Linked DNA regions of Homo sapiens: region 1 is linked to region 2. The links come from fine-mapping of genetic effects on gene expression. Tissue or cell type: lymphoblastoid cells. Region 2 holds a variant in brackets; the other region holds the start of a gene. All regions are shown on one strand. Distances are from middle to middle.

Region 1 (16,474 bases), 180 kb before region 2:
ACGGCATCAGTACAAAAAGTAAATCTAAGGTTATAGCTTATGATTTTTCCTATGGAAACCAAATTCACCAAGTGAAGTAAGACTTGACTCTCTCAAACCCACTCCAAAAAAGAACCATGAGGAATTCTGCAAGCTGGTTGTATTAATACTAAATGTGGTCCTTCTTTCTTTAAGCGTATTTCCATCACCAGAGATCCAAGGAAATAAAAATTAAGTGTCTTTATAGATGGACAACCAGACACAGAAAACTACCTGCTTTTTTTTTACTTTTTTTAGACAGAATCTTGCTCCGTCGCCCAGGCTGGAGTGCAGTGGCGTGATCTTGGCTCACTGCAAGCTCTGCCTCCTGGGTTCATGCCATTCTTCTGCCTCAGCCTCCCGAGCAGCTGGGACTACAGGTGCTTGCCACCATGCCCGACTAATTTTTTGTATTTTTAGTAAAGACGGGTTTTCACCACGTTAGCAAGGATGGTCTCGATCTCCTGACCTTGTGATCTGCCTGCCTTGGCCTCCCAAAGTGCTGGGATTACAGGCGTGAGCCACCACGCCCAGCCAACTACCTTACTATTTTTAATTAAATAACTTTTTCAATAGCAAATTCTCAAAAGAATTAATTACAAAATACTCATTTCTTTTGCAAGCTAGGGTGTCAGCAATCTATCAGTCTACAACAGTTCCTAATACTGTCATCATGATGTCTACCTGAATCCACAGGAAATCAGGAAAGGGAGGCAAGATTTGAGATACAGACAGTATACTGAAACGCCAAAAATATGAAAAAGGAGTTCAAAGAAAAAGAAATTCATTGGCCAAAAATGATATAAATAGATACTCAACTTTATTCATAAATAAATGAAAATTCAAATAAGGTAGTAATTTTTACCTATCAAAATAGCTAAAACTGGAAAAGTCAGATAATATTTGCTGTCAGTGAATGCAGGGGAAATAAGCATTCACATACATTACATCTAGAAGTAAAAGTTGGAACAACCTTTTTGAAGGCAATTTGGCAATCTGACAACATTTTTAAACTGTATACCTTTTGACCCATTGTGAGAATTCAATCTTATGATATAACTTCGCATAAAATGTATGCTTTCACAGGAGTATTGTTTATAATCCCGGAAAACTATAAACAACCTGTTCATTTACAAGGCTGTGTTATAATTATACAACATAATACATTGTAGCAATTTAAAATAATGAGGAGGTTCTCTAGGAACTGATATAAATAGACACTGTAGATACAATGTTAGGGTGAAAAAAGAAAGCTGCAGCTAGCATAGCACGTAGGAACCCCACTTGAGGTTTTCCACAACTGTAAAACCAAGATGGGATTTAGGACTCTTGTGGGGATTACATGAAGATGATGCTGATATGTGTTTACAGCTCAAAAAAGCATACAGTAAGCACTTGATAAATGTCTTTCCAGTAGTTCTATCTGGAAAGAAGGACACAAAACAGACATTTTGGCTGGGCGCAGTGGCTCACGCCTATAATCCCAGCACTTTGGGAGGCCGAGGTGGGCGGATCACAAGGTCAGGAGATCGAGACCATCCTGGCTAATACAGTGAAATCCCATCTCTACTAAAAATACAAAAAAATTAGCTGGGTGTGGTGGCGGGTGCCTGTAGTCCCAGCTACTCTGGAGGCTGAGGCAGGAGAATGGCGTGAACCTGGGAGGCGGAGCTTGCAGTGAGCCGAGATCGCACCACTGCACTCCAGCCTGGGCAACAGAGCGATACTCTGTCTAAAAAAAAAAAAAAAAAAAAAAAAAAACAGACATTTTTACTTTCCTCTTGTTCAACTATTTTTAAACCATATGCACATTTTGTTTTGTGAAATAAAGCGTTTTAAATAAATGAATAAAAAAAGTAAGTTTTTACATCCTTAAAGAGATGAACTCATGTCTCTCCCTCTTTCTTTGTTTTTATAATCTCTTGTGTATGTGTCTTTAAATTGCCATTAGAGGCTGAGCACAATGCCTCATGCCTGTAATCCCAGCACATTGGGAAGCCAAGGCAGGAGCATTGCTTGAGGCCAGGAGCTGTACATCAGCCATAACGAGACCCTGTCTTTACAAAAAGTAAAAAAAAAATTAGCCAGGTGTGGTGGTTCCTGCCTGAAGTCCTAGCTACTTGGGAACCTGAGGAGGGAGGATCGCTTGAGCCCAGGAGCTTGAATTTACAGTGAGCTACGATCATGTCACCGCACTCTAGCCTGAGTGACAAAGAAAGACTCTGTCTCTAAAAAAATAATTTTTTTAATTGCTATTGGATTTTGCATGTCCTAGGTAGGGCGGAATGATTTGTTTTATACATAGTAGGTACTCAATAACTGAATCTAATTTCTTACCATACTAGGATCTTTGTGGGTCCAGAATAGGAAGAAAAAGTATTAAACTCCTATTAGTAAGCTGCCAGATCAATATGTAGTTGAATTAGTTATATTAATATACTTGGCTGAATTAACTTTTTTAGCTGAGTAGTATGAGAACCCTTATTTGATTTTATACTTACTGCTTCCAGGCTCTCTTTTTTCATGTTCTGTGAATCCAATTGTTGTTGAAGTGTATCTAATTCCTAAGTGGAAAAAAAAAAGCAAACATAAATCCAAATTACATTAAGAATAATTTGTTGTAGTGGGGGGAGGGAGCTGGGAAAAAAAATTTATTTCTCTGTTTCTCAACATTTCAAAGTGACTAAGTAAATTTTCTAAATATCTTCACTGGCATCTTACATTTTGACTAGAATTTATTAACACTTCATTATTTCTATTTTTCCCAACTTCTTTCATTATTCTTAAAAACTTGCTGTGTGCCTTCAAAAAAAAAAAAAAAAAACTTCATGAGTTTCTCAAAAGTAGCTAGACCTTAGACCTTTTCACACTGAATCATCACTATGTTCTGAGACATCAAATATCAGAAGCTTTCAAATTATGTCATTGTTTAAGATTATTATTTAAAATTTTGATTTGTAACCGTGTTTTCACATCTTTTGCCTAATTTCTCTATACTGTGTACACACACATATAACACATGCACACATACATACACATATATGTAAATATAAATATGGTTCACATGTACACATACATACACGTATATGTAAATATAAATATGGTTCACTCCTAAGATAAGATCCTTAAACTGTTTACTCATTCATTATCCCATACAAGATTAACTATATTTTGGTACTATTTTGGCATTTCTATCATACTCTTTCTTTTTTCTTTTTGAGACAGAGTCTCGCTCTGTTGCCCAGGCTGGAGTGCAGTGGCATGATCTCGGCTCACTGCAACCTCCGCCTCCCGGGATCAACCAAGTACCTGCCTCAGCCTCCCGAGTAGCTGGGATTACAGGGGCCTGCTACCATGCCTGGCTAATTTTTGTGTTTTTAGTAGAGACAGGGTTTCACCATCTTGGCCAGGCCATACTTTTTCTTCAACGCTTCACAGTATCTTAGAAATCTTCTCTAAAATAAAAAGGTTACTAAATTGTCAGCAAAGGAATGTCTAAGAAACTAAAACTATAATCATTATTGGCATTTATGGGGCCTAATTCTTTGCTTAATCTTTAGTTAAGGGCCATCTGGGCATGAAAGGGAACCACCATGACTGAGTATTGAGAGGATTCTCAATATGCCCTCAACAGGGACTTAAATTGCTTATTTAATATTGCATGTTCTCACTCATCTGTAGGAGCCTAAAAAAGTGGATCTCGGCCGGGCACAGTGGCTCACGCCTGTAATACCAGCACTTTGGGAAGCCGAGGGGGGCGGATCACCTGGCTAACACGGTGAAACACTGTCTCTACTAAAAACACATAAAAAATTGGCCAGGCGTGGTGGCGGGCACCTGTGGTCCCAGCTACTCAGGAGGCTGAGGCAGGAGCATGGCATGAACCTGGGAGGCGGAGCTTCCAGTGAGCCGAGATCGCGCCACTGCACTCCAGCCCGGGCGACAGAGCGAAACTCCGTCTCAAAAAAAACAAAAAAAAAAAAACAAAAAAAAGGGGGTAGTAGAATGATGGTTACCAGAGGCTGAGAAGGTGGTGCCCAGTTGGGGGCATGGGGTGGTGTGGGGGAGAGAAGGAATAAATTCTCATGTTTGATAGAACACTAGGGTGGCTATAGTTATCAGTAATTAATTGTATGTTTCAAAATAGCCAGAAAAGGAGATTCAAAATGTTTCTAGCATAAGGCCGGGCGCGGTGGCTCATGCCTGTAATACCAGCACTTTGGGAGGCCGAGGCAGGCGGATCACGAGGTCAGGCGATCAAGACCATCCTGACTAACACGGTGAAACCCCGTCCCTACTAAAAAAATACAAAAAATCAGCCGGGCGTGGTGGCGGGCGCCTGTAGTGCCAACTACTTGGGAGGCTGAGGCAGGAGAATGGCATGAACCCGGGAGGCGTAGCTTGCAGTGAGCCGAGATGGGCACTGCACTCCAGCCTGGGCGACAGAGCGAGACTCCGTCTCAAAAAAAAAATTTTTTTTAAATTAAAAAAAAAAAAATGTTTCCAGCACAAAAAAAATGCCAAATGTTTGAGGTGATGAATATCCTAATTATCCCGATTTGATCATTATACATTGCATACGTGCATGGAAATATCACATGTACCCCATAAATATGTACAATTGTGTATCAATAAAAAAATTAATTTTTAAAAATGGAAATTTAGGCAATATAATTACAGGACAATAGCCATTCAAATCATAATGCTAACAGGTAAAAAGGTTAGCTGTTTATTAAGCAGGAAGGAAAAGGAAAGTAAATATATATATGGATCTGGTCTATGAGGCCTTTTTTTTTTTGAGACAGAGTCTCGCTCTGTTGCCCAGGCTGGAATGCAGTGGTGCAATCTCAGCTCACTACTGCAACCTCCACCTATGAGGCCTTTTAATGTTTGCATTAAAAGTCTGTAACTGCAAGTATTTACAGACTTTTTAATTTACAGACAAGTATTTTTATCAATGCAAACATTTATAGAAAAGTACTTTTATAAATGCAAATATTTATAGACAAGTATTTTTATAAATGCGAGTATTTTCATGTCTTTATGAAATGCAAAATGAATAAATAGAAGTAAACCAAAAATAATAAGAGTAAAAGCTAGGTCATCAAACAGCAGATGAAAATGAAGTTTTCTAAATAAATTCTTCTGAAATGTGAATATACGTATGAATCAGATGGGGACCTTGTTAAAATGAAAACTGATCTCAAAGTATAGTCAAGTTCTCAGGGGATGCTGATGCTGCTGATATTCAAACTATACTTTTAGTAGCAAGAATGATACATGCTTGGCACACAGCAGTAATTTGTATTACCTGTAACAGTTTCTCATTTGTGGTTTTCATCTCTAGGTACTTGACTTGGTTTTCAAAAGACATATTTTTGATAATGTCATCTGTTGCTTGTTTTTCCTGTTCAATTTCTTCTTCGACACTTCTGATTTGTTTTTCTTTCCTAAAATCAGAAGCACGTAATATTCCTGATACTATATTGAGGAAAAAATATCCAATTATTTTATACAAGTCATGGTCCTAATTTAATAGGATACTTAAAGACATTCAACCACAGTGTGTGACTGAAAAGTCTTTATATTTGTACTAAAAAATGCTATTTGACCTATATAAAATTTGGCCCCATTAGCACAAACTTATTTTTACATCTTTCTCTTCTCCATCCCTAAATTCCTCTATTTCCTTACTCTCCATTTTATTTTACTAAGAAATCACAAAGATTACCAAAAAATCCTTAATGACTTATATATATGAGGATGCATTTATACTTTTTTAAAGTTATACCTTCAAAAGACAAATAAGAGGCTGCGCTCGGTGGCTCACGTCTGTAATCCCAGCACTTTGGAAGGCTGAGGCAGGTGGATCACCTGAGGTCTGGAGGTCGAGACCAGCCTGGGCAACACGACAAAACACCCATCTCTACTAAAAGTACAAAAATTAGCCACACGTGGTGGCGGGCACCTGTAATCCCAGCTACTTGGGAGGCTGAGGCAGGAGAATCGCTTGAACCCAGTGGGGAAGAGGTTGCAGTGGGCTGAGATCGCGCCACTTCACTCTAGCCTGGGCAAAAGAGCAAAACTCCATCTCAAAAAAAAAAAAGACAAATAAGTTTTAGAATTGTGGTTTTAAAGCATCCTTTAGCCATAAGTTTTTCTGACTAAATTAAATACTGTATAGAAGTTTCCCGTGTAAATCATCCAGTGTGGCTCTGACAGAACTAGGGAGTAGAGAGGCCTGCAGTGCAATTTGATTTTTTAGTTATGGCTTTAGATTAATAATATGCTTTGCTTAAGTTCTCTTTTACTTACTGCTTTAGTTAACATTGCTATTTCACAAATTTTTGCTATTTTTTAGCATTGTAAAATATTAAGCTCATTTCTCTAAAAACACAATAAACATTACAAACATAATCCTATAAAAGTAGTAATAGTGAAATTAATTAGAAGCAATAACCATTTTTATCACGTAATCAAAAGAAATACCAATGACATGTCACTTGTTGCCTAGGCAAGGTCAATTATTGATAGGGTAGAGAAAAACTCTGAAAAAAGAATAGGTAAGATGCCACTTATCTAAATACTTTCAAGATTTACATTTTATAAAAAGCTGGATTGAACACACATTTTCACTCCCAAGATCATTAATTTCTATTTTGAGTTTCAAAATCTGATTAACCTATCACTATTTACTCTCTTTCGCTCATAGATACCAACTTCTATAGTTTTCACAATCACCAGCTAAGCTTGTGGATCCACATATCCCCTACACACCTTCTACACATTCATATCCTACTACTAGAATAAACAACCTAAACTCAGAAATTTCCCTACCAAAAAAAATCTCAAAATAACCAAATAAAAGATGAACATAGTAAAGCAACCTGGAATTTCAATTTATTTTTGTTTCACTGTTGGAGAAGAAGTGGTATCTTCACTTGGAGCTTCAATTACAACAGTAAAACAAATGTGTTTCCTGCTGCTACAATTTGTATAGGTATATGAGCTCAAAGAAATTGAAAGGAAAGTATCTATTTTCATAAATTAAGGATACTGAAGCCCAGTGGAATTAATCTTTTGGAAGGAATTCATTCTAAATTTGATTACTGACTACCAACAGTGTTTCTTCTTTCAATGTAGGAAGATGAGAACTAATGTTATAAAGTATTCCATTTTACAGAGGAGAAATTACAGCATAAGAAAAGTAACTGACTTTCTAAAGGCCATATGATGTCCAGGTGTAAGGTCTTTTTGATGCTTTGAGTACTTTGCTCCTGTTATAACTTGGCAGTAAAACCACTGATGATGGTGTCATAAAAGTAAGTAAACAGGCTGGGCATGGTGGCTCATGCCTGTAATCCCAGCACTTTAGGAGGCCGAGGCGGGCAGATCACGAGGTCAGGAGATCGAGACCATCCTTGCTAACATGGTGAAACCCCGTCTCTACTAAAAATACAAAAAAATTAGCTGGGCGTGATGGTGGGCGCCTGTAGTCCCAGCTACTTGGGAGGCTGAGGCAGGAGAATGGCGTCAACCCGGGAGGCAGAGCTTGCAGTGAGCCGAGACTGCGCCACTACACTCCAGCCTGGGTGACAGAGCGAGACTCCATCTCAAAAAAAAAAAAAAAAAAAAAAACACACAATAATAAGTAAACAAAAACGTTGAAACTCAATAGAATACAAAACTTGGTGGTATCTTTACAATTTGAATCCCTCCCTACCTCCTTTCTTTTCTCTCTCTCTCCTTTCCTTCCTTCCTTTTCCTCCCTCCCTGCCTCCTTCCCTTCCTCCTCCTCCTCCTTCCCCTCCCCCTCCTCTCTCTTCTCTTCTCTCTCTCTCTCTCTTTCCCTCTCCCTCTTTCTGTCTTTCTTTCTTGACAGGTACCACTTGTCACCCAGACTAGACTGTGGTAGCACAATCATGGCTCACTGCATGCTCAAACTCAAGCCATCCCCCCACCTCAGCCACCCAGGTAACTGGGACTAAAGGCACACAACACCATGCCCTGCTAATGTTTTTACTTTTTATTTTGAGTAGAGACAAGGTCTTGCTAAGTTGGCCGGGCTGGTCTCAAATTCCTGAGTTCAAATTATTCTCTCATCTTAGCTTCTCAAAGTGCTGGGATTACAGGTGTCAGACTCTGCACCTGACCTCAGTTTGAATGCTTCTAAGCACAAAATACCATCAGGACAAACATAAATTAATTTAGCAACAGTATATCTTTCAAAAGTATGCATTTTCAATATTGTAAACTCTAAATCAGTAAGTAAAATTGTTAATACTTTAATAAAATTTTCAAAGAGTAATTAAGAAACACAAAGGTAGGCTGGGTGCAGTGGCTCACACTTGTAATCCCAGCACTTTGGGAGGCTGAGGCAGGGGTATCACCTGAGGTCAGGAGTTTGAGACCAGCCTGGCCAACATGGTGAAACCGCATCTCTACTAAAAATACAAAAATTAGCCAGGTGCAGTGCCGGGAGCCTGTAATCCCAGCTACTCAGGAGGCTGAGGCAGGGAGGAGAACTGCTTGAACCCAGGAGGTGGAGGTTGCATTGAGCCGAGATCATGCCACTGCACTCCAGCCTGAATGACAGAGCGAGACTTCATCTCAAAAAAAGAAAAAAAAGAAAGAAACACAAAGGTTAGGCAAACAGCCTTACTTGTTATACTAAAAAAGGAAAAGATGACTTTAAGAAATTATTCTTCTAGTCAATCTTTTGCTAAGGAAGTCTAGTTTTTTTTTTTAAATCACCTGTTCACTGGGTACAAAGGTTAAAACAAAGTGAAATGTAATCATACGATGTACTTTTTTTAATGCCGTTGAAACAGAGTTAATTTCCTTTAGCACACAAGTCTTAGAGACAAAAGAAAAAAAGGTAAGATATGTATATTTATAGCTTTGGTTATTGTTGTATTTTTTTTAATCATATTTAAGTTTGTTAAGTCTGTACAACCATCTTTGCCTTTAAGAAGTGATGAAAAATAAGAAAATATGATTATATTTTCACATGGTCTACCTCAAAAATACTATATACCTGAGACATGGCCAAAGGGTCTTTCCTAAATAAAGTTAGAATACAATACTAAGTAATTGTTTTGCGGGGGGCGGGGGGGGAAATGGTTTCATCTAGCCAATCAAATTTATAAGAATTTTTATTTTAAAATATGTTAATCACAGAGCATTCTGAAGTGACACTAATCTAAAAGCCAATTGGCAAGATAAAAAAAAGACTGGCCATGAGTTGATGATTATTGAAGCAGGCTGATAACTATTCTTCTTACTTAGGTTTTTTCCTTGAAATTTTCCATTACAAAAAGGTTTTAAATCTGAAAAAAATCTACACAATAGTTAAATAAGGAAACAAAGTTAATTGTGTATTATTAACATCATTCTCTAAATACATTGAATTCTGGCATAAATATCTAAAATACTTAATGGAAAAACTACATTTAGATTTTAACAAAACCAAAATAATTACAGCATCTCTTTATTTCATAGCATATAATAATCATATAAAGTAAATAACTTAAGAAACATGTACTTGAAACTTTATTAAGAACAATGCTTCTTTTTCAGTATCTACCATTTCCTTTGAGTAAAGCTCTTTTTTTTTCAGTAACGTAGATCATATGCTAGGTAAAAATGCACGTAATTTTGTGAAATAACAAAAGAAACTGATATTCCATCTTCTATTCCAGTTTTCTATTTTATATTAGCTCCTAAGTAATCACTATATGAAACTCAACTATCATTTCAAAAAAAATCCAAATTAGAAAATATTCCAAAAGGAGAAAGAAAGCAACAATGACTGACTTCCTTTTAAACCAACTGTTGAAACAGGCTAAACTGACTGATGGATAATTTCTGCATAATCTACTTGGCCAGCTATTCTGCGTATCTGATTTTCTTTTTTTAAAGACACCCAATAATGCTAGCAAATGCTTTGTCTGGGGACTTACTCAGTGTCATGATAATCGACATCACCCCCTCTTTCAATCTTTCTCCTCTGAAAAGGCACACAAATATGTGAAAACTCTCACAGATAGTATGGATCAATCAATGTATTTCACAGCTTCAGACCTAACGATGCTTTAGATTTGTTGAATGCTTTCTTGTACAGAATCTACCTTGAGCTGAGTATACACTGCTTCCAAGATCTATCCAATGGAAAGGAAAAAAAATCCTTTTCTAATCCTTATGATTTTTTTCTTTTAGCGCACTTGAGAAAACAATTATTAGCATTAAATAGCAGATACAGATAATAAATATAAAACCATACTCCGTCTCCATTTCCACATAAGCTCACAGTCCTGTCTTGCCTCCATTACTTTTTTCACCTGCTTCTATTTCATATCAACTTTTAACTTAAATCTAGTTCATTTTCTTTGTAGCCTATTTGCTTTCTTTCACTATCCCCATCCTATTTGTTTCTGGAAAAAAAACAGCACTTCCCTTACCCACCTCTCCTCAGTCACCTCTGCAGCCTACTAGAGACATCAGTAAGAATTTCACCACATCATTGAGAAATACTGAAACAAGCCATTGAAGGAGCTGAACACCTATTCCTATAAATCATTAAACATAGGTAAACTACCTTTTGTAAATGATTTAGGCATCCCTCTTCTATGGGCAATCATCTTGAATAAGTGATAGTTTAAATGCACTTCTGGCTCTAAAAGGGATTCTATTATGATCTACATCCAAATTTTATAAAATATAGGAGGCAGAGTAGCTTTTCCTAACAAATTTCATTTAACTATGGAAAGAGAAAAGGTAGAAGGGGAATGTGCATAAATGGATCAACAAATCAAAGGCAATGAGGAAGTTGACTAGAACAGACTAGCACTAAAATAGCAGTAAATTCCTTATTGCTAACGAGGCGAGAGACTTTAGTATGCTGCATGGATTCTTGCCTACTCTGATTAGTTTTTCTTTTTTTTTTCTGAGACAGAGTCTCACTCTGTCACCCAGGCTGGAGCACAGTGGCATGATCACGGCTCACTGCAACTTCTGCCTCCCAGGTTCAAACAATTCTGCTGCCTCAGCCTCCCAAGTAGCTGGGATTACAGGTGCCTGCCACTGCACCCGGCTAATTTTTGTAATTGTAGTAGAGATGAGGTTTCGCCATGTTGGCCAGGCTGGTCTCAAACTCCTGACCTCAGGTGATCTGCCCGCCTCGGCCTCCCAAAGTGCTGGGATTACAGGCGTGAGCCACTGCACCTGGCAGACATGATCTTACACTTAAAAAATTAAAAAAAAAACAAACCCTAAATACTCCACAAAAAATCTGTAAAAACTGACAACTGAATTCAGTAAAGTTGCAAGATATAAAATCATCATATAAAAATTGGTAGAATTTAGATATGCCAACAGTGAAGAATCTGAAAAAGAAATCAAGAAAGCAAGCCTGTTTACGATAGCTACAAAGAATATAAAATACCTTGGAATCAATTTAACCAATGAAGTGAAATATCTATATAACAAAAACTGTAAAACACTGATGAAAGAAACTGAAGAGGATACAAAAAAAAATGGAAATATAATCCATGTTCATGGAGTGGAAGAACATTGCTAAAATATCAATACTAACCAAAGCAATTTACTGATTCAATGCAATTCCTATCAAAATACAGTGACGCTCTTCATAGAAGTAGAAAAAAAAATCCTAAAATTCATATGGAACCATAAAAGATCCCAAATAGCTAAAACAACCCTCAGCAAAAAGGAACAAAGCTGGAGGCATCACACTACCTGACTTCAAAATTTTCTACAAAGCTATAGTAACCAAATCAGCATGGTACTGGCATCAAGACAGATCCATAGACCAATGGAATGGAATAGAGAACTCAGATATAAATACACACATTTACATCAACTCATCTTCAACAAAGGTGCCAAGAACATAAAATGGAGAAATAATAGTTGTTTCAATAAATGGTGCTAGAAAAACTGCATAACTATATATGGAAAAATGAAACCAGACCCCTATCTCTTGCCATATCCAGGAATAAAAATGGATTAAAGACTTTAATAAGACCTCAAACTATAAAACTGTTTCAAGAAAACACTGGAGGGCTGACTCTCTTTTCGGACTCAGCCCACCTTCACCCAGGTGAAATAAACAGCCATGTTGCTCACACAAAGCCTGTTTGGTGGTCTCTTCACATGGACCCGCATGAAAGTGGCACATGCCTGTAGTCCCAGCTACTCAGGAGGCTGAGGCATGAGAATCACTTGAACCCAGGAGGCAGAGGTTGCAGTGAGCCAAAATGGCATCACTGCACTCCAGCCTGGGCAACAGAGCCAGACTCTGTCTCAAAAGAAAAAAAGATCTGGTTGTTTAAAAGTGTGTAGCTCCTCCCTCTGCTCTTTCTTCCTCCTTCTCTAGCCATGTAAGACATGCCTGCTTCCCCTTCACCTTCCACCATGATTGTAAGTTTCCTGAGGACCCCCCAGACGTGCATCCTGTACAGCCTGTGGAACTGAGTCAATTAAACCTCTTTTCTTTATTTAAAAAAAAAAAAGAGAAAAAAAGAAAACGTTGGAGAATTGCTCTAGAACACTGGCCTGGACAAAGATTTTTTTGTGTCTCTAAGACCTCAAAAGCACAGGAAACCAAAGCAAAAATGTACAAATGGGGTTTCGCCAAGCAAAAAAGCTTGTGCACAGCAAAGAAAATGATCAAAAAAGTGAAGAGACAACCCACGGAATGAGAAAATATTTGCAAACTACCCATCTAAAAAGGGGTTAATAATCAGAAGATATAAAGAGCTCAAACAGCTCACTAGCCAAAAACAAACCGATAAAAAACAAATAATCCAAGTAAACATGGCAAAAGAACTGAATAGATATTTCTCAAAAAACACACAAAAGACAAACAAGTATGTGGAAAAAATGCTCAACATCAGTAATCACTCAGGGAAATGCAAATCAAAACTACAATGATATATAATCTCACCCCCATTAAAGTAGCTTCTATCAATATGACAGGCAATAACGGATGCTGGTGACGATGTGGAGAAAGGGGAACCCTCATACACTCTTGGGAATGTAAATTAGTATAGCCACTCTGGAGAGCAGTATGAAGGTTCCTTAAAAAACTAAAAATATAACACTTACATTTACATTTGATCCAGTAATTCCACTGGGTATACATTTAAAAAAAAGAGATGAATATATTAAAGAGATAGCTGCACTCCCATGTGTATTGGAGGACTATTCACAAGAGCAAAACTATGGAATCAACCTAAGTGCCCATCAACAGATGAATGGATTAAAAAAAAGTAGCATATATATACAATGGAATATTATTCAGCCATAAAAACAAATGAAATCCTGTCATTTGCGGCAACAAAAACGGAACCGGAGGTCATTATGTCAAGTGAAATAAGCCAAGCACAGAAAGACAAATATCACACATTCTCACCGGCATGTGGGAGCTAAAAAAGTGGACCTCATATAGATTAAGAGTAGACTAGTGGTTACCAGAGGCTGGAAAGGGTGGTAGGGAGGGAGGAATGCAGAAAAGTTTATTAATGCATACAAACATACAGTTTGCTTAAAAAAAGAAGGCCTAGTGTTAGATCAGTAGGGTAATTATAGTTTACAGTAATTTTTTTCCTTCAACTTTTATTTTTAAGTTCCGGGGTACATGTGCAGGTTATGCAGGTTTGTTACATAGGTAAACATGTGCCACGGTGGTTTGCTGCACAGATCAACCCGTCACCTAGGTATTAAGCCCAGCATCCATTAGCTATTTTCTGATGCTCTCCCTCTCGTCTAATTTACTGTACATTTAAAAACAGCTAGAAGAGAATTTGAATGTTTCCATTATAAAGAAAAGACAAATATTTAACGTGTTGGATATCCCAAGTACATTAATTTGATCTTTAAAAATTATATGAATGCACTACTTTATCACATGTACCCCAAAACTATGTATATCTACCACGCCTCAATAAAATTTTTAAAAGTTACCATGGGGGGAAAAAGAGTGCTAAAGATTCTCATCTCCCACAGTTTTAAGTCAAGAATAATAGATAGATAATGCCAATAGATAATGCCTAAAATTGAAAAAATCAAGACCATCAATATAAGCATATACTTAAACATGCATAAATATACGTTTTCCTGAATTTCTTTTGTGCACTTCTATATTAAATTTTTAAAATTTACAACCACTTAAATTGCTTTAAAGCTCCTTTCATGAGATCTAGAAACTAATGAGACACACTTAAAAATATTAATTTTCTCTAAAAAGAAAAAATAGAAATCAGTCTCATTCTTCAAAGGGGCTTTCTAGTTTATTAAGATCAGAGTGCAAGGATGGTGAATGGCCATGCACTTGTTTCACATTTTATGTATTTCAAGAAAAAGTAGATTTGAAAGGCCAGGGTAAGTGGCTCATATCTATAATCCCAGCACTTTTCAAGGCCACGCCAGTGGCTGGGGGGAAATGGCTCGCACCCAGGAGTTTGATACCAGGCTGAGTAACACATGGTGACCCCATCTCTACAAAAATTTTTAAAATTAGCCAGGCATGGTAGTGCATGCTTGTGTTTCAGCTACTTAGGAAGCTGAGTTGGGAGGACTGCTTAAGCCTGGGAGATCAAGGCTGCAGTGAGCTGTGACCATGCCACCAGGTCTGTGTGACAGAGTGAGACCCTGTCTCAGCCAAAAAAAAAAAAAAAAAAAAAGAATAAACAGATTCAAAAGAGGGAAAAATAAAAATGTCCTTAATGAAAATACTCTCTTTTCTATCAGGTCTGCAACATGAAAGTCACAGGCATCACAATCCTCTTTTGGCCCCTCTCCATGATATTATTATCAGACAAAATCCAGTCTTCTAAAAGAGTAAGTTTTTACAATCAAAATAGTAAAAATATTTTCAAAGGTACATTTTCTGTATATTTAGTAAAATATAAAAGGGCAATAAGAAAGCAAAGAAAATCTGACCTACTAAAATTAAGAGTTTATTTAGCTCTGTATATCCAAATTCCAATTTGACAAAAGCAGCCTTCATTTATAAAAACTGAGTTCTTTAAAAGTTGATTAAAGGGAGAGATCTGAAAATTTTCACTATAAAATCAGAAATTAGTTTTAAGAGTAAAATCTTGTTTAAAATGTAGGAAACTTTTTTTTAAAAAGCACATATTTATGAGAGAAACTGCTATTGAATTATTATTGGTGAAAAAATCTAACTGCAAAAACAGTAATAAACCAGAACTATTCTTAGTTCTATTTATTCTTAGTTTACTGTTCAGTAAAAACAAGAACTATTTCTTTCTTTCCATCTATATCCACATAAAGAATTTCAGATTGTGTGGCTCTTTAAATTCAATACCTGGCTCCATTTCTGATAAAAGATAAATATTTCCTTTTAAAACACCAAACTTTGAGCTGTTAAACCCAGAGAGTTTAAGAGAGTTAAACCAGAGAGTTTATTCAGACTGATTGATTGATTGCTTGCTTTTGAGACGGAATCTCGCTCTGTCGCCCAGGCTGGAGTGTAATGGCATGATCTCAGCTCACTGCAACCTCCGCCTCCTGGGTTGAAGCGATTATCCTGCCTCAGCCTCCCAAGTAGCTGGGATTACAGGTGCTTGCCACCATGCCCGGCTGACTTTTTTTTTTTTTTGTATTTTCAGTAGAGACAGGGTTTCACTGTGTTGGACAGGCTGGTCTTGAACTCCTGACCTCAGGTAACCCGCCTGCCTCAGCCTCCCAAAGTGCTGGGATTACAGGCGTGAGCCACCATGCCCAGCCCATTTATTAATTATTGAACAGCCCTAGGTATAATGTTGTTAGCTCTGCTGATTTTAAAAACACATATAGTTTAAAATAATTTCCTCACTATAAAGCAATTGTGCACACTGGAATATTAAATGTTAACAGAATTATTATTTACCATACATTTCCACATATATAAATGGGAATATTCCAGTAGCATTACTTTCTGTAATGATCATGTAATAACAGTTGGAAAATACCCGTATGACAAATTGGAATCTCTTTGTTCAATTGTATGTATCAGAATATCCTTAATTTTTAGTATTTCATCCCAATAAAGAAAAAGATTTGCTCTACTGTAACACCAAAATATTAGATAGTAGGTTTTTTTCCCAAAATAACGTCCTTCTAATGTCTAAGTGCTTAAATATGAAATTTGGTGAAATTCTATTAATTTTTTTTCTGATTAATGCCTTTCTTTTTTTTGTTTTTCTAGGAAGTCCAATGTAATTTTACTGAAAAAAATTATACCTTGATTCCAGCAGATATCAAGAAAGATGTTACTATACTTGATCTCAGTTATAACCAAATTACTCTTAATGGTACAGACACAAGAGTTCTACAGACATACTTTTTACTCACAGAGCTCTATTTGATTGAGAACAAGGTTACTATCTTACATAATAACGGTTTTGGTAACCTCTCCAGTCTAGAAATTTTAAAT
Region 2 (16,474 bases):
TACAGTTCTTAAAGATGGTGTGTCCAGAGTTTGTTCCTTCCAGTGGGTTCGTGGTGTCACTGACTTCAGGAGTGAAGCCACAGACCTTCACAGTGAGTGTTACAGCTCTTAAAGGTGGCACGTCTGGAGTTGTTTGTTCCTCCCGGTGGGTTGGTGGTCTTGCTGACTTCAGGAGTAAAGCCACAGACCGTGGTGGTGAGTGTTATAGCTCATAAAGGTAGTGTGGACCCAAAGAGTGAGCAGCAGCAAGATTTATTGCAAAGAGCAAAAGAACAAAGCTTTCACGGTGTGGAAGGGGACCCGAATGGGTTGCCACTGCTGGCTTGGGTGGCCAGCTTTTTTGGCCACTTCCACATCCTGCTGATTGGTCCGTTTTACAGAGCGCTGATTGGTCCATTTTACAGAGTGCCGATTGGTCTGTTTACAAACCTTTAGCTAGATACAGAGCGCTGATTGGTGCATTTTTACAGAGTGCTGATTGGTGCATTTACAAACCTTTAGCTAGACACAGAGCGCTGATTGGTGCGTTTTTACAGAGTATGGATTGGTGCGTTTACAAACCTTTCAGCTAGACACAGAGCACTGACTGGTGCGTTTCCAAACCTTTAGCTAGACAGAAAAGTTCTCCAAGTCCCCGCTCGACCCAGAAAACCAGCTGGTTTCACCTCTCAATCCCCCCTCTAAACAGGACACCCCAACTGCTGTTGGGAATTGGGCAATGACTGTTCTAGCTAATTCCTGCTGGATAGGGGCAAAGAACGGGCCCTGCCGTTGTAGTGTCCTCCAGAGGGGAACTCTTTAGGGTTCCATTTGTAAGACCATCTGTAGCTTGATGGCCTCGATTCTAGAGGAAACAAATTTAACAAGGAGGTTAAAAATACAGGGTCTGAAGGCAAGTAATAGCAAGATGGCTGCCATGGGACGTAGAAAGGGGAGAAGCCATGTTGCCCAACTCCAGAGGTTGGTATAAGAGTCTGAAAGCCATTGTCTGATTTCAGAAGCCTTTTCCTGTAAATGCCGGTTGGCATCTCATACTATCCCTGACTGGTTAGTGTAAAAACAACACTCTTCCCCTAAGAAGGTGCAGAGTCCTCCTTTCTCAGCAATGAGGAGGTCTAGGCCTCAGCAGTTTTGGAGAGTCACTGCAGCCAAAGAGTCTATTTGGGATTGTAATTACTATCCTTACTGGATAGATTTCGTTATTTCTTGCAAACTGTCTGAGAAATCCTTTGAGAGTGTGTGGTAGTAGGATAATGCATATTACCCTGTTAACTTAGCAAAATTTACTTTAGTTGAAAACCTTGTAAGTTGGGGATTTTAATTTTTCTTTGCTATTAATAAAACCTCATTCAGTCCTATTAACTTAGAATTGGTATAGATGGCTCCTTCCTGATTCTGTAAGTACTTTAAGATTTGGCTGAGTGCAAACAGTTTGAGCAGACCGGTTATTAGGCAATTTTCCTAACTGCTTATCACTTACGGAATACCCATTGTGTCTTTTTCCCTTAATCGCCTGGAGGAACTATCTATCCTCCTGTCCTGAAGAGAGTTCCTCCTAGATCTGGTTGGACCTTTGTGTGGTAATTAATTAAGATTTAGATCCCATGTTAGGAAACCTGCTGGGTTAAGGATTTTTGATAAGAAGACTATGGGTTGTCAGTGGCCTCAGTGCTTTCAGGCTACGCCCTTGTTTACACTGACAACAAAGTGGTATTGGAGTGTTATAGGGTTACAGAGAAGACCTTTAATTATCAATTATAGGTTTTAAATTTACCCTGGCTTTTAAAGGAATGGGGTACACTGTTTTTTCTTTACTACTTCTATATCTCTCATTCTCTCACTTTGACTTCTTCTTTGTATCTCTCTTTCTCTCTGACTCCCTTTTTGTCTCTTCCTCTCTCTGTCTCTCTCTTTGACTCCTTCTTTGTCTCTGTCTCTTCCTCTCTCTCTTTGACTTTCTGTCTCTCTCTCTGACTCCTTCTTTGTCTCTTCCTCTCTCTCTCTTGTTCTGACTTTCTGTCTCTTTCTCTCTTTCCTTTGTGCTGGCCTTTTCCTGCCTCTGCCAGCCACTTATGCAGCTGTTCTCCCCTCTCCTTCCCCTTTTTGATGGCTTCGGCAGTGTAAGACTGCCACCTCCTTGGGTTTTTGCACTGCATGCAATAACTCCATGATTTCCTTGTGGTATTTAATGGGGGTTCCCCCAAAGTTTAGGAACTCCCTTTCTTTCTGTATTGCAGCATGGGCATGTAGGATTATATAAGCATACTTGCTATCTGTATACCCATTTATTCTTCTTCCCTTTCTCAGTTCTAAGCCTTGGGTAAGTGCCACTATTTCTGCTAACTGGGCGCTGGTTCCTGGGGGAAGAGGCTTACTTTCAAGTACGGTTACATCACTAACTATGGAATAACCTGCCCTTTGCATCACACTCTCCACAAACAAACCTCCATCGGCATATAGGTTAAGGTCAGGATTAGCCAAGGGGACTTCCAAGAGATCATCTCGGGCGGCATAAGTCTGGACTACAACCTGTTGGCAGCCATGCTTGACCGGCTCCCCATCCTCTGGGAGAAAAGTAGCAGGGTTGAGGGCAGCACACGTACGCACTTGAAGCACCAGTCCCTCAAGGAGTAGTGCCTGGTATCTAAGCAGGCGGTTGTCTGACAGCCATAAACTTCCTTTGGCACTTAGTATGCCATTTACATCATGAGTAGTCCAGACAGTGAGATCCTTTCCTTGTATTATTTTGATTGCTTTTAACACTAAGACAGCCACCGCCACAACTACCCATAAACAGTGAGGCCAGCCTTTTGCTACTGTATCAGTTTCCTTACTTAGATATGCCACTGGTTGTGGGGTTGTCCCATGAGTCTGAGTAAGGACTCCAAGAGCTATCCCTGCTCTCTCTGTGACGTATAAAGAGAAGTTTTGTCCTGTGGGAAGGCTTAAAGCTGGAGCTTGTACTAGGGCCTGCTTTAAGGTTTCGAAGGCTGTTTCTGCCTCTGGTTCCCATTCTACTAGATGAGTATTTGCCCTCTGGGTCTCCTTGATTAGAGTAGAGAGGGACCTGGCTATCTCACTGTATCTGGGGATCCATAGTCATAGGCAAAAGCTGGTGATTCCAAGGAACCTCCGCAACTGTTTTAATGTCTTAGGGCAAGGATAAGCCAGTATAGGCTGTATTGGTTCCTTGCTGAGGGCCCTGGTCCCTCTGGCTAAGATTAGGCCTAGATATTTGACCAGCTGTAGGCAAAGCTGGGCCTTCGACCTAGACGCCTTGTACCCTTGATTAGCTAGAAAGTTGAAGAGATCTAGAGTAGCCTGCTGGCATGAGGCTTCCAAACTGGTAGCCAAAAGTAAATCATCCACATACTGAAGGACCAGAGTGCCTGGACTTGAGAAGTGGCCTAGATATTGGGCCAGTGCCTGACCAAACAGGTGAGGGCTATCCCAATACCCTTGGGGCAAGACCGTCCATGTAAGTTGGGAGGTGTGGTCTGTGGGATCCTCAAAGGCAAAGAAAAACTGGGAGTCAGAGTGCAGGGGAATACAGAAGAAGGCCTCCTTGAGGTCCAGAACAGTGAACCATTCTGCGTCCTCTGGTATTTGAGAGAGCAGGGTATAGGGGTTGGGTACAACTGGATATAGAGGAATTACTGCCTCATTGAGGAGTCTAAGATCTTGCACTAGTCTCCACTGACCATTTGGTTTTTGTACTCCTAGAATTGGGGTGTTGCAAGGACTGCTGCATTTCCTTACTAAGACTTGAGCTTTTACATGTTTAATAATATCCTATAATCCTTTATGAGCTTCAGGCCTTAAGGGATATTGCCTTTGATAAAGAAAAGTGGTGGGATCTTTTAGCCTGATTTGGACTGGGTGGGCAATTGTTGGCCTTCCAAATTGTCCTTCCAATGCCCAGACTTCAGGGTTTATTCCCTCCTCAAGTAGGGGACAACAAATGGGTAACTTGTTTCCCATATTCATGTACATAATAGCTCCAGCTTTGGCTAATATATCCCTCCCTAATAAGGGTGTGGGACTTTCAGGCATAACGACAAAGGCATGTGAAAAGAGCAAAGTCTCGCAATTACAACTGAGGAGGTGGGAGAAACACCTGGTTACAGGCTGTCCCAGGATTCCTCAGATGGTAATGGACCTTGAGGACAGTCATCCAGGACAGGAGATTAACACTGAGAAGGCCATGCCAGTGTCCAGGAGGAAGTCAATTTCCTGGCCCTCAATGGTTAAACGTACCTGGGGCTCAGTGAGGGTGATGACATGAGCTGGCCCTTGCCCCGGGCACCCTCAGTCCTGTTGTTGGATCATCTGGTTGGGGGCTTCTGGCCCAGAGAACCTTTGCCCTCTGGGGCAGTGTGCCTTCCATTGATTGCCTCAGCACAGGGGACATGGATGACGGGGTGGCTTGTTTCTTGTTGGACCATCTTTTTTAAAGTGTCCTTGTAAACCACACTGATAACAAGCCCTACCAGGTGATTGGCCTGCTCCATTTTCTGTCCTCTCTGAACCACCAAGGTTTGTTTGTCTGAGGGCCATGACTAAGGCTGTGGCCTTTCTCTGATCTTGCTTTTCCTTTTGGGCCTGTTCCTCTTGGTCCCTATTATAGAACACCAAGGTTGCCAGGTTTAATAATGCCTCCAGATTTTGTTCAGGGCCCAGGGCTTGTTTTTGGAGCTTTCTCCTGATATCTGCGGTTGATTGGGTAATAAACTTATCTTTTAGGATCAATTGACCCTCGAGGGAGTCGGGTCACAGGGGAGTATATTTCCTTAAGTCCTCCCGTAGCCGCTCGAGGAAGGCGGAACGATTTTCTATATCACAACTAGCTCTTTCTCCTTAGTGTGGAATTCTGTCCTAGAAGGGAGTCCTGGCTGGTCAGTTTCTGGAGTTCTTAGGGGTTACACTGTTCCGGCTCTGTTCAGACCTTATTATTTCTTGCATTCTTATTAGAGACAAAACCTATCCTAATTGGCTTTCCTTTGCTTTCTTCCACAGAAATGCTGATATTATGAAGGTTTTATGACTTGTTAGTGGCCTGCTCTAATAATAAATAATAATTTATATTATGGAGTTCATGAGAATATCATAGGAATGTAGTCTTAACTTATGATGGTTCAACTTAGAATTTTTTGATTTTATATTGGTGCAAAAGCAACACATTCAGTAGAAACTGTACTTTGAATACCCATACAACTATTCTAGTTTTTACTTTCAGTACAGAATTTAGTAAATTACATGAGATATTCAACACTTTTATTATAAAATAGGCTTTGTGTTAGATTATTATGCCCAATTGCAGGATAACGTAAGTGTTCTGAGCATGTTTAAGGTAGGCAGGGCTAAGCTATGATGTTTGGTAGGTTAGATGTATTAAATGCATTTTTGGCTGGGTGCAGTGGCTCACACCTGTAATCCCAGCACTTTGGGAGGCTAAGGCGGGCAGATCATCTGAGGTTAGGAGTTCTTCTTGACCAGCCTGGCCAACATGGTGAAACCCCGTCTCTACTAAAACATATACAAAAATTAGCTGGTCGCGGTGATGGGCACCTGTAATCCCAGCTACTCAGGAGGCTGAGGCAGGAGAATCGCTTGAACCCGGGAGGCAGAGGTTGCAGTGAGCCAAGATCACACCACTGCACTCCAGCCTGGGCAACAAGAGTGAAACTCTGTCTCAAAAAAAAAAAAAAAAAAAAGTATTAAATGCATTTTTGACTTATGCTATTTCAACTTATGATGGGTTTTATAGGACATACTTATAATATGTCCTTATAATAACATCTATACTTAGCTTGAAATGTTTTGGTTTTTCTTTCTATTGCTTTGCCTGTTTTATGTGGGGATTTAAAGAGATTGAAAAACTCTACTTTTGCTTCCCAAGATACAACTATGTTTTCATTTTAAAATATGCATTCAATTTTCTTTGTATACAAATTATAATCCAGTATTTTATATCACGGAGAACTAATTTATGTAAAATATATTACTGAATATTTACAAAGTCAAAATTATTTTGTTAATTTTGATGTTATTCAAGCTTTTTTTTTTTAATTTTAAAATCAAAGCTTGTTTGTTATTTGACAGAAGCAACTGTTAGCCTGAAGGTAAAACAAGTTAGCACTGCTTCTTAATAGCAAAGGAATTTAGTTGTATTAGGTGTATTGTTATAATAGATAGTTATTGTCAGTTGAAAAACCTGTTTTATCATAAAATTGAGTCATTTATATAAAAATAAAATGGTACAACTATAGATTTAAAAAGATCAAAAATTTAATAGTTTTAATTTTTTAAAGGAGAAGAATAGAATTTAATGTGTTACTTTTGAAAGATAACTTGCTTCCTTTGAACAATTCATATTTGTTCATTACTCTTCTATTTTAGCATTATCCTTTCTGCTTGGGACTTTTTTTTTTCAAATTCCAGGGAAGAACTAGAAGTTTTGGTAACTGATTTGTTTTCCCCTCTAAATACATTTGACCATAGCATTTTTGTTTTTTAAGAGATAGGGTCTCACTCTGTTGCCCAAGCTGCACTGCTCTCTGTGATATGGACAGGAAGCAGGGAAATACTGGGTAGAAGAGGGTGGTCCCAGCGAGGGCCACACCCTTAAGCCTGTGGCCCATAGTGAGAACATAAATTCCTGTCTTCCAGCTTGAATGTTGCTTTTTGGCCTGCCCCACACCCCATCCTGTACCCATAAAAACCCTAGGCTCCACTGGCAGAGGGACAGGGTGGCAGAGTGGAGAGGCAGAGGAAGAGAGAAGAGAAGAAGCAGCCAGATGTCAGAGAGAAGCAGCTTGACTTCAGCAGGACAGCTTGACAGTGGGACTTCAAAAGAGTTTGGCCAGGGAGAGCTGAACTCTAGGGGAAGACTACATTCCCACTCCATCCCTGTTCCAGCTCCCCACCTCACTGAGAGCCACTTCCACTGCTCACTAAAATCCTCCACATTCACCAACCCTCAGATCATTTGTGTAACCTGATTCTTCCTAGATGCCAGACGAGAACTTGGGTACAAGAGGGTGGGTGCAAAAGGCTGTCACCCTGACCCTTCACTGAGTTGTTTAACACTTAAGCTGTCCATGGAAGGCAAAACTAAAAGAGCACACTCTTTTAGTAATACATACCCTCTGGAGGTCCAGGGGCATCACAGGTACCCCCCTAGACACTGCCATGGGGCCACACAGAGTTCTACTCCTGCCGGTGTCCAGAAGCACTTGTACGGGCCCCCGCACCCACTCAGCTGCGTGCTTCCCCTCCTATGAGGGGTTGAGAGCCGTGGGCTGAGTAAACTAGCCAACCCCAAAGGGGTTAAGGGAACTATCCCATTTCAACTGCAGCCTCGAACTTCTTGGCTTAAGGATCCCTCCACCTCAGTCTCCCAAATAGCTAGGACTGCAGGCAGGCACCACCACACCCAGCTGATTTTTATTTTTTTATAGAGATGGGGTCTTCCTATGTTGCCCAGGCTGAAGTCTTGGCCTCAAGCAATCCTCTTACCTTGGCCTCCCAAAGTGCTAGGATTACAGGCTTGAGCCACCATGCCTGGTCCGACATAGGATTTTTAATAAGATTCTGTCGTTAGTGTGATTTTTAAAAATCACCAAATTGGCCAGGCACGGTGGCTCAAGCCCGTAATCCCAGCACTTTGGGAAGCCGAGACGGGCGGATTACGAGGTCAGGAGATTGAGACCATCCTAGCTAACACGGTGAAACCCCGTCTCTACTAAAAATACTAAAAATTAGCCGAGCGTGGTGGCGGGCGCCTGTAGTCCCAGCTACTGGCGAGGTTGAGGCAGGAGAATGGCGTGAATCCGGGAGGTGAAGCTTGCAGTGGAGCCGAGAAAAAGTGCTAATTAAGCTACCTTATTTATGCCAAATTTAAAAGTTAAAATTCTGCATTTGGGGGGTCAGGTTTCATGTTTTATAGTTCTTGCTATTCGCATTAAAATATGTAACATAATACTTATACATTCTAAAGCCTGTAAAATGGTTTTTGCTGTGCACTAGTTAATCAAACTGCTGCTATAATCACAGAAAGAACCAAAGACTATAACTGTAAATACCATATGCTTGTGAAAATATGGAGGACAACCAATAACTAATTATCTTTGGG[G/T]TTTTTTTAAGTACTTTTTTTTGTTGTTTTTTTGTTTTTTGTTTTTGAGATGGAGTTTCAGTCTTGTTGCCCAGGTTAGAGTGCAATGGAACGATCTCGGCTCACTGCAACCTCTGCCTGCTGGGTTCAAGCGATTCTCCTGCCTCAGCCTCCCAAGTAGCTGGGATTATGGGCATGTGCCACCACTCCGGGCTAATTTTTTATATTTTTAGTGGAAATGGGGTTTCTCCATGTTGGTTAGGCTGGTCTTGATCTCCTGACCTCAGGTGATCCACCTGCCTCAGCCTCCCAAAGTGTTGGGATTACAGGCGTGAGCCACCATGTCCGGCCAAGTACATGTTTATATAATTAACTATTCTCTTTAAATATACCTTACGATGTCGTCTTTTCCCATCTAATCAGTAGTTGGAAAATCTTTATCAGAATTAAAAAATCTGTTTTGTCAGGATGTGAATTTCAACCAATTTGGCAAAAATCAGTCTTATATAACTTATGGCTTTCCGAGTTGAGTAAATGAAATCAATATTCCCAGTTTTAGAACATATTTACATCAACATATAACTATAAGAACTGGTTTTCATGTCTCCGCCTGTAAATTAATGTCAGTTGAATTTTCAAAAGCTTTTAGTGAAGAATAGGCATTTCATTGAAGGTTATTTTTGAATCCTCAAAATTAACTTTTATTAAGTGCATTGATGTGGAATTTAGGAACTCTTAAATAGTAGCTCCTCCTGAGAGTATCTAAATTTGTAAGGCATCAAGGAGTGTGGTGCATGCCTGCAGTCCCAGCTACATGGGAGGCTGAAGTGGGAGGATCACCTGAGCCTGGGAGGTTGAGGCTGCAGTGGGCCATGATGGTGCCACTGCACCCCAGCCTGGGTGACAGAGTGAGACCCTATCTAAAAAGAAAAAAAAAATGACAGTCTCAATATTCTAGAGTTGTATGTTAACTATGGTTGCTCATTCTTCAAGCTCAGAGGATGTTGAAGGTGTGGGAGAGAGTGCTGGGAGATGTGCATAGGAAGTACATGCAACAGGGAGAAATGACGTCTGGCAATGAAAGAAGTGACAGAGCTATAGTTACATGGTTCTTGAAGCCTATTTAGTGCAAGGGCAAATAATAACACACTCAGGAGTTTTTGCTTGCTCTAAATATCGCAGTACTATATGATAATTGATGTTTCTAATCATGAGTCAGTCTGCAAGAAATGGGGTTCATGTGCAGTTGTGTGCAAATAAGCTTTGCAAAAAACAGATATTTTGATGTAGGAAGACTATATGGGCAGCTTCTGTTCTTGACTTATTGGTTAAATGAGGCATTATCTTTAGGCAACTATTTGAAAACACAGTGTTATATTCACTTAACATTTACTTTGAGTCCTGGTTGTAGTCAAACTCTAAATTTGCTGGAAATGCTAGAAATGGTGTAATTTCTGTTCACTGAAACAATAGAATAAAGGAAATGGACTTGTGCACTCTGTGGTAGATTGCCACTTAATGTCATTTGAAGCATAAGATATGTTGATTACTGAAAGCTAAAATTAGCCCCACAACTAGTAGGCTGTGTTTGACACTTTAAAGGTATACACTTGATGAAGAACATAATTAGGGATAACAGGCTTTTATGCTTGGCAGAGGTAGGCGTCACATTTTATTAACATACATTGCTTAATATTACTCTCTTGACAGATTCTCCAAATACAATTTTTTTTTCCCATGGCAATATGAGCCACTATGTCTGTGAGTCAATATGAACAAGATTTTTTTTTATGGTTGATTGCCATTGAATGATGTAAACCTTGTGGTATTATCAAAGTGAAATATCATATACTTTGGGTGTAACAAGTATGCGTTTTGTAACATGTTGAAGAGTTCAATTACACTATAGTTAACAAATTGAGGCCAGGCGCGGTGGCTCATGCCTGTAATCCCAGCACTTTGGGAGGCTGAGGCAGGCGGATCACAAGGTCAGGAGATCGAGACCATCGTGGCTAACACGGTGAAACCCTGTCTCTACTAAAAAATACAAAAAATTAGCCAGGCGTGGTGGCGGGCGTCTGTAGTCCCAGCTGCTCGGGAGGCTGAGGCAGGAGAATGGCGTGAACCTGGGAGGCGGAGCTTGCAGTGAGCCGAGATCGCGCCACTGCACTCCAGCCTGGGCGACAAAGCAAGACTCCGTCTCAAAAAAAAAAAAGTAAAAAGAAATTGAACTTTTTATTAGCTGTGAGTTTGCTGTCTCAGTCTTCCTCGCAATTCTATGCAGAATTGCAATGGAAACTTTCTCTGAATGCCTTGTTTAAAATTGTTGTGTTTGTGTATTATCTTGATAGGTCCAAAATTATATTTTCACAATGATCCCTGTAAACATTTAAACTTAACTAGTAAAAGCAGTGAATAATCTTTGTTGCAGAGTGTTCAATAAACAAACAATACTTCAGTAAAATAATAGAAACAATAAACTTAGAATTTTTTTAATGTTTTAAAATTGTGTCTCTTTTTAAAAGATGGGGTGGGAGAGAAGAGTGATCTTTAGATTTTTATAAAATTGAAGTAACAGCATGTGCTGACAAGTAATAAATAACAGGGCCAGGCGCAGTGTCTCATGTCTGTAATCTCAACGCTTTGGGAGGCCGAGGCGGGCAGATCATCTGAGGTCAGGAATTCGAGAGCAGCCTGGCCAACATGGCGAAACTCCATCTCTACAAAAAATACAAAAACTAGCTGGGCATGATGGGACGTGCTGGTAATCCCAGCTACTCGGGAGGCTGAGGCAGGAGAACTGCTTGAACCCAGGAGGCAGAGGTCGCAGTGAGCCAAGATTACGCCACTGCACTCCAGCCTGGGCAACACAGCAAGACTCCATCTGAGAAAAAAAAAAAGTAAACAGAGATTCAAAGTGGCTAAATAAATTGGTTTCCATTCATCTTTTGTTTTTCATTGCCATCAGGCTAAGTGACAGTTTCTCTTTTCAGCCTACAGGAAAAATATTTGGTAGTGTAACAATCCTGTTTCTATTCCTGCAGTAGGAGCTCTGTTACCTTCTGTAGGAGCTGCATTTTAAAGTATTTAAATACAATAATTCAGTCTACATTTGGTTGCTCATTTACCTAAAACTTTGTGAAGTTATAAGTGCTCAGTGTCTGTGGTGCTTTACGGTATTTCTGGTAGAATTGTTTCCTTCCTAATTTTTCTTTGACCCATGGGTTATTTAGAAGTTTCTTTCTTTCTTTCTTTCTTTCTTTCTTTCTTTCTTTCTTTCTTTCTTTCTTTCTTTCTTTCTTTCTTTCTTTCTTTCTTTCTTTCTTTTTCTCTCTCTCTCTCTCTCTCTCTCTCTCTCTTTCTTTCTTTCTTTCCTTCCTTCTTTCTTTTCTTTCTTTCGACACGGAGTCTTGCTCTGTCACCCAGGCTGGAGTGCAGTGGCACGATCTCCGCTCACTGCAAGCTCCGCCTCCTGGGTTCATGTCATTCTCCTGCCTCAGCCTCCCAAATAGCTGGGACTACAGGTGCCTGCCAGCACGCCCGGCTAATTTTTTATATTTTTAGTAGAGACGGGGTTTCACCGTGTTAGCCAGGATGGTCTCGATCTCCTGACCTCGTGATCTGCCCACCTCAGCCTCCCAAAGTGCTGGGATTATAGGCGTGAGCCACCGTGCCTGGCCAGAAGTATGTTTTAGTTTCCTAATATTTGGAGACTTTTCTAGGGATCTTCTGTTATACTGATTTTTTATTTCATTCCATTGTAGTCAGGAAATACTTTGTTTGACTTGAATCTTTTAAAATTTATTGAGATTTGTTATTATTGCCTAAAATATGGTCTATGTTGGTAAGCGTTCCATGAACACTTAAAAAAAACAAAACAAAACAGATGTATTCTGGGCCGGGCATGGCGGCTCACGCCTGTAATCCCAGCACTTTGGGAGGGCTAGGCAGGCGGATCACGAGGTCAGGAGTTCGAGACCATCCTGGCTAACATGGTGACACCCTGTCTCTACTAAAAATACAAAAAATTAGCTGGGCATGGCGGTGGGCCCCTGTAGTCCCAGCTACTCGGGAGGCTGAGGCAGGAGAATGGCGTGAACCCGGAAGGCAGAGCTTGCAGTGAGCCGATATTGTGCCACTGCACTCCAGCCTGGGTGACAGAGCGAGACTCCGTCTCAAAAAAAAAAAAAAAAAAAGACATATTCTGGTATTATCAGGTGGAGCGTTATGTAAACATCAGTTAAGTCAATTTGGTTGACAGTGTTGTTCAAATCTTCATATGATCTTATTTTCTGTTTATGTCTTCTGTACTTACTGAAAGAAAGCATACTTTGTGTTGATGCATAACAAATTACCTCAAATTGGGCTTCAAAGAGCACACATTTATTATCTCTGCTCCTATGAATCAAGAATTGGGATGGTTTAACTGAGTCCTCTGCTCAGAGTCTAGAAGATGGCAATCAGGGTGTCAGCTGAGTTCGCTCTTGTTGCCAAGGCTAGAGTGCAATGGCGTGATCTTGGCTCACTGCAGCCTCTGCCTCCTGGATTCAAGTGATTCTCCTGCCTCAGCCTCCCAGGTAGCTGAGATTACAGTCTCCCACCACCACACCTGGCTAATTTTTTGTGTTTTAGTAGACACGGCGTTTGGTCATGTTGGCCAGGCTGGTCTGGAACTCCTGGCCTCAAGTGATCCACCCACCTCCGCCTCCCAAAGTACTGGGATTACGGTTGTGAGCCGCAGTGTCTGGCCTTATTTTTTATCTTATTTATTTATGTATTTATTTTCGAGATGATCTCACCCTGTTGCCCAGGCTGTATAGTGGTATGATCTTGGCTCACTACAACCTCCATATCCTGGGTGCAAGCAATTATCCCACCTCCCAAGTAAATGGAACTACAGGTGTGCACCACCATGCTCGGCTAATTTTTCTATTTTTGTAGAGATGGTTTTTTGCCATGTTACCCAGGCTGGTCCCTAATGCCTGAGCTCAAGCTGTTCACCCACCTCAGTCTTTAAAAGTGCTGATATTATAGGCGTGAGCCACTGTGCCCAGCCAACTACTGCTTTCTTTTGATTAATGTTAGTATCTTTTGATTAGTGTTTTGCTTTCTGTTGATTAGTGTTAGTATGGTATATGTTTTCTAACCTTTATTTTAACTCCATTTGTGTCTTATATAGATGATCCCCAACCGTGGTTCAACTTAGGAATTTTTGACTTTGCTATGATGTTAAACTGTTGCAATTTTGACATATTATACAGTATTAAATAAATTACATGAAATATTCAAAACTTTATTATAAAATAAGCTTTGTGTTAGATGATTTTCCCAACTATAGGCTAATGTAACTGTTCTGGCCATGCTTAAGGTAGTCTAGGCTAAAGTATGATGTTTGGTAGGTTAGGTGTATTGAATGCATTTTTTACATATAATATCCTCAACTTACAATGGGTTTATCAGGGCGTAGCCCCATGGTAAATTGAGGAGTATCTGTATTTAAATTAAGTTTCTTGTAGTTGGCATATGGTTGGGTCTTCTATTTTTTAATCTAATATTAGTCTCTACCATTTAATTAGGATATTTTGGCAATTTATATTTTTAAATTTTTCTTTACTTATTAAAAATAAATAGTATTTGTACATAGTACATCATTTGTAACACTCTCTTTCTAGATATATTCCACAATGTATTTCTATCATTTATTTTGACAGCTTTGTTAATATGTCATTCACATAGCATAAAGTTTACCCTTTAAAAATGTACAATTCAGTGGTTTTTACAGAGTTATGCACCCATCAATACTAATTGCAGAACATTTTAATCACCACAAAATCATCATCATCATACCCATTAGCAGATACCCTCCAGGCCCAACTTCCCCCAGCCCATGGCAACCACTAATATACTTTTTGTCTGTCTGGATTTGCCTATTCCTCATATTTCATATAAATTGAATCACACAATAAGTACCATTTTTTCTGGCTTCTTTATTTTCATCCTTCATCCATGTTATCACACTTAATTCCTTTTAATGGTCAAATAATGTTCCTTTTATACAGATATACTATGTTTTATTTATCCATTCATGAGATGGCTGATTATTGTGTTTTCACTTTTTGGTTCTTATGAATAATGCTGCTACAAACAATCATGTGCAAATTTTTGTGTAGACACATATTTTTATTTCTCTTAGGTATTTACCTAAAAGTGGAACTGATGGGTCATATGGTAACTGTGTGTTTAACTTCTTGAGAAACTGGAAAACTGCTTTCCAATTAGCTGCACCGTTTGACATTCCCACCAGCAATATATCAAGATTCAAGTTTCCTTGCCAACACTCGTTATTGTCTGCCTTTTTCATTTGATACTTTAAAGATATTGCTCCACTGTGTTTCCATTAAGATATCTCTGTCATCACTGTTTCTCTGTATATAACATGACTTTTTATAGGACTATATCACCAGTTTTGAACAATTTTATTGCAATGTGAACTCATGTTTCTTGTGATTGGGAGTTAATTGGAATTCTTGGATTTGTGCATTTATCATTTTTAACACATTTGGAAAGTTTTTGGCCATCATTTCTACAAATATTTTTCTATTGCCCCGTTCTTCCTTTGGGGACTCTAGTAACATATACATATATATGTTATCATATATGAAGAAAGACTAATAACATATATATATGTTATTACATATGAAGATTATATATATGTTACATACTATATATACATATATATAGTATGTAATCTTTCTTCATATGTGTATATACAGTATGTACATTTTATATATATATATATAATGTACTTAAAGTTTTTACCATAGTTCAATGATGCTCTGTTTATTTTATTTTTTTAATTATCTTTCTGTCTTTTAAGCTCATTAATCTTTTATTCTGCAATTAATCCCATCCTTGGCATTAATCCCACCTAATACATTTCTCATTATACATTGTAATGGTTTCATTTTAAGAAGTTTGATACGCATTTTTTTTTATTTGAGATGAAATCTTGCTCTTGTTCCCCAGGCTGGAGTGCAATGGTGTGATCTCGGCTCACTGCAACCTCCACCTCCTGGGTTCGAGTGATTCTCCTGCCTCAGCCTCCTGAGTAGCTGGGATTACAGGCACCTGCCACCATGCCCAGCTAATTTTTGTATTTTTAGTAGAGACGGGGTTTCACCGTGTTGGCCAAGCTCGTCTTGAACTCCTGACCTCAGGTGATCTTCCCGCCTCAGCCTCCCAAAGTGCTGGGATTACAGGCATGAGCCACCGCGCCCGGCCTGATATGCATTTTTATATCTTTCATGCTTTAACTTTTTGAGCATATAGAAAACAGTTACAATAACTGTTTTTTTAAAGTCTTTGTCTCCTAATTCTAGCAACTCTGTTAGTTCTGGGTTATTTTCAATTAATTAGTTTTTCTCCATGATGAGTCATATATTGCCATTTCTTTACAGATCTGGCAATTTTGATTGAATGTCACACATTGTGGATTTTAGTTTGTTGGGTGCTGAATATTTTTATTCCTATAAATAGTCTTAAGCTTTTTTACTGAGATACAGTTAAGTTGCTTGTAAATAGTTTGATTCTTTCCATTCTTGTGTTTAAGATTTATTAAGCAGGACTGCTATGTGCTCATCTAGGGCGAATTATCCCCCACTACTGATAAAATACCCTTCTTTGTCCTTAACTCAGTGCCGTTTGTAGGACTCAAAAGGCATTCCACTGTCTTCTGGGCTTCATAGTTTCTGATAACAAGTCCATGTTATTTGAATTGTTGTTCCTTTGTATGTAATGTGTCATTTTTCTTTGGCTACCTTCAAAACTTTTCCTTTGTCTTTTGTTTTAAGTAGTTTCACCTTGATGTGCCTTATCATGATTTTCTTTGTATTTAATCTTTCTTCATATGTATATACACAGTATATATATTCATTCTTCTTCTTCAGGACCCCAGTTACTTATATACTAGGCCTTTTGATATTGTCACACAGATCTCTGAAGCTTTTTTTTTAAGATCATTTTCCTCTCATGTTCAGATTGGATTATTTCCATTGCTCTATCTTCAAGCATGCTAATTCATTTCTGTTTTGTCCCAATTCTGCTATTAAGCCCATGTAGCAATTTAAAATTTTTTTGATACTATTGTGTTTTTTCAAATAACATCTCCATTTGGTGTTTTTTCAAATAACATCTCCATTGGTGTTTTACATATAAAATTTATATTTATATATTATATAAAATTTATATTTATATATTATATATTATATATAATTTATATACATATAATTATATATAAATATATAATTATATATAATATATAATTTATATACATATAATTATATATAAATATATAATTATATA

Which allele goes with the higher level. Alleles are on the strand shown, and positions count from the first base shown. SD is a standard deviation of normalised expression in the study named.
In carriers of allele G in region 2, the expression in lymphoblastoid cells of the gene that starts at base 8,816 in region 1 tends to be lower than with T alone (large effect, 1.0 SD a copy in GENCORD).

What was found. PIP is the estimated chance that this variant, and not a neighbour inherited with it, causes the effect.
Region 1: LRRC19 starts here. The variant in region 2 is the best candidate, but not a certain one, in a credible set for the expression of LRRC19 in lymphoblastoid cells (GENCORD, PIP 0.80).

Annotation. Positions count from the first base shown.
Region 1 is chr9:26,998,014-27,014,487 of GRCh38, reverse strand. It overlaps LRRC19 (leucine rich repeat containing 19), which reads left to right and starts at 8,816. Exons shown (of 5, transcript NM_022901.3): 1 at 8,816-8,896; 2 at 14,785-14,874; 3 at 16,247-16,474. The coding sequence starts at 14,794. It overlaps IFT74 (intraflagellar transport 74), which reads right to left. Exons shown (of 20, transcript NM_025103.4): 9 at 5,330-5,468; 10 at 2,520-2,582.
Region 2 is chr9:26,814,383-26,830,856 of GRCh38, reverse strand. No RefSeq gene overlaps it. Among named protein-coding and RNA genes, the nearest start is that of CAAP1, 70 kb to the left of the region's middle. The variant G/T (reference allele first, on the strand shown) is at 8,135.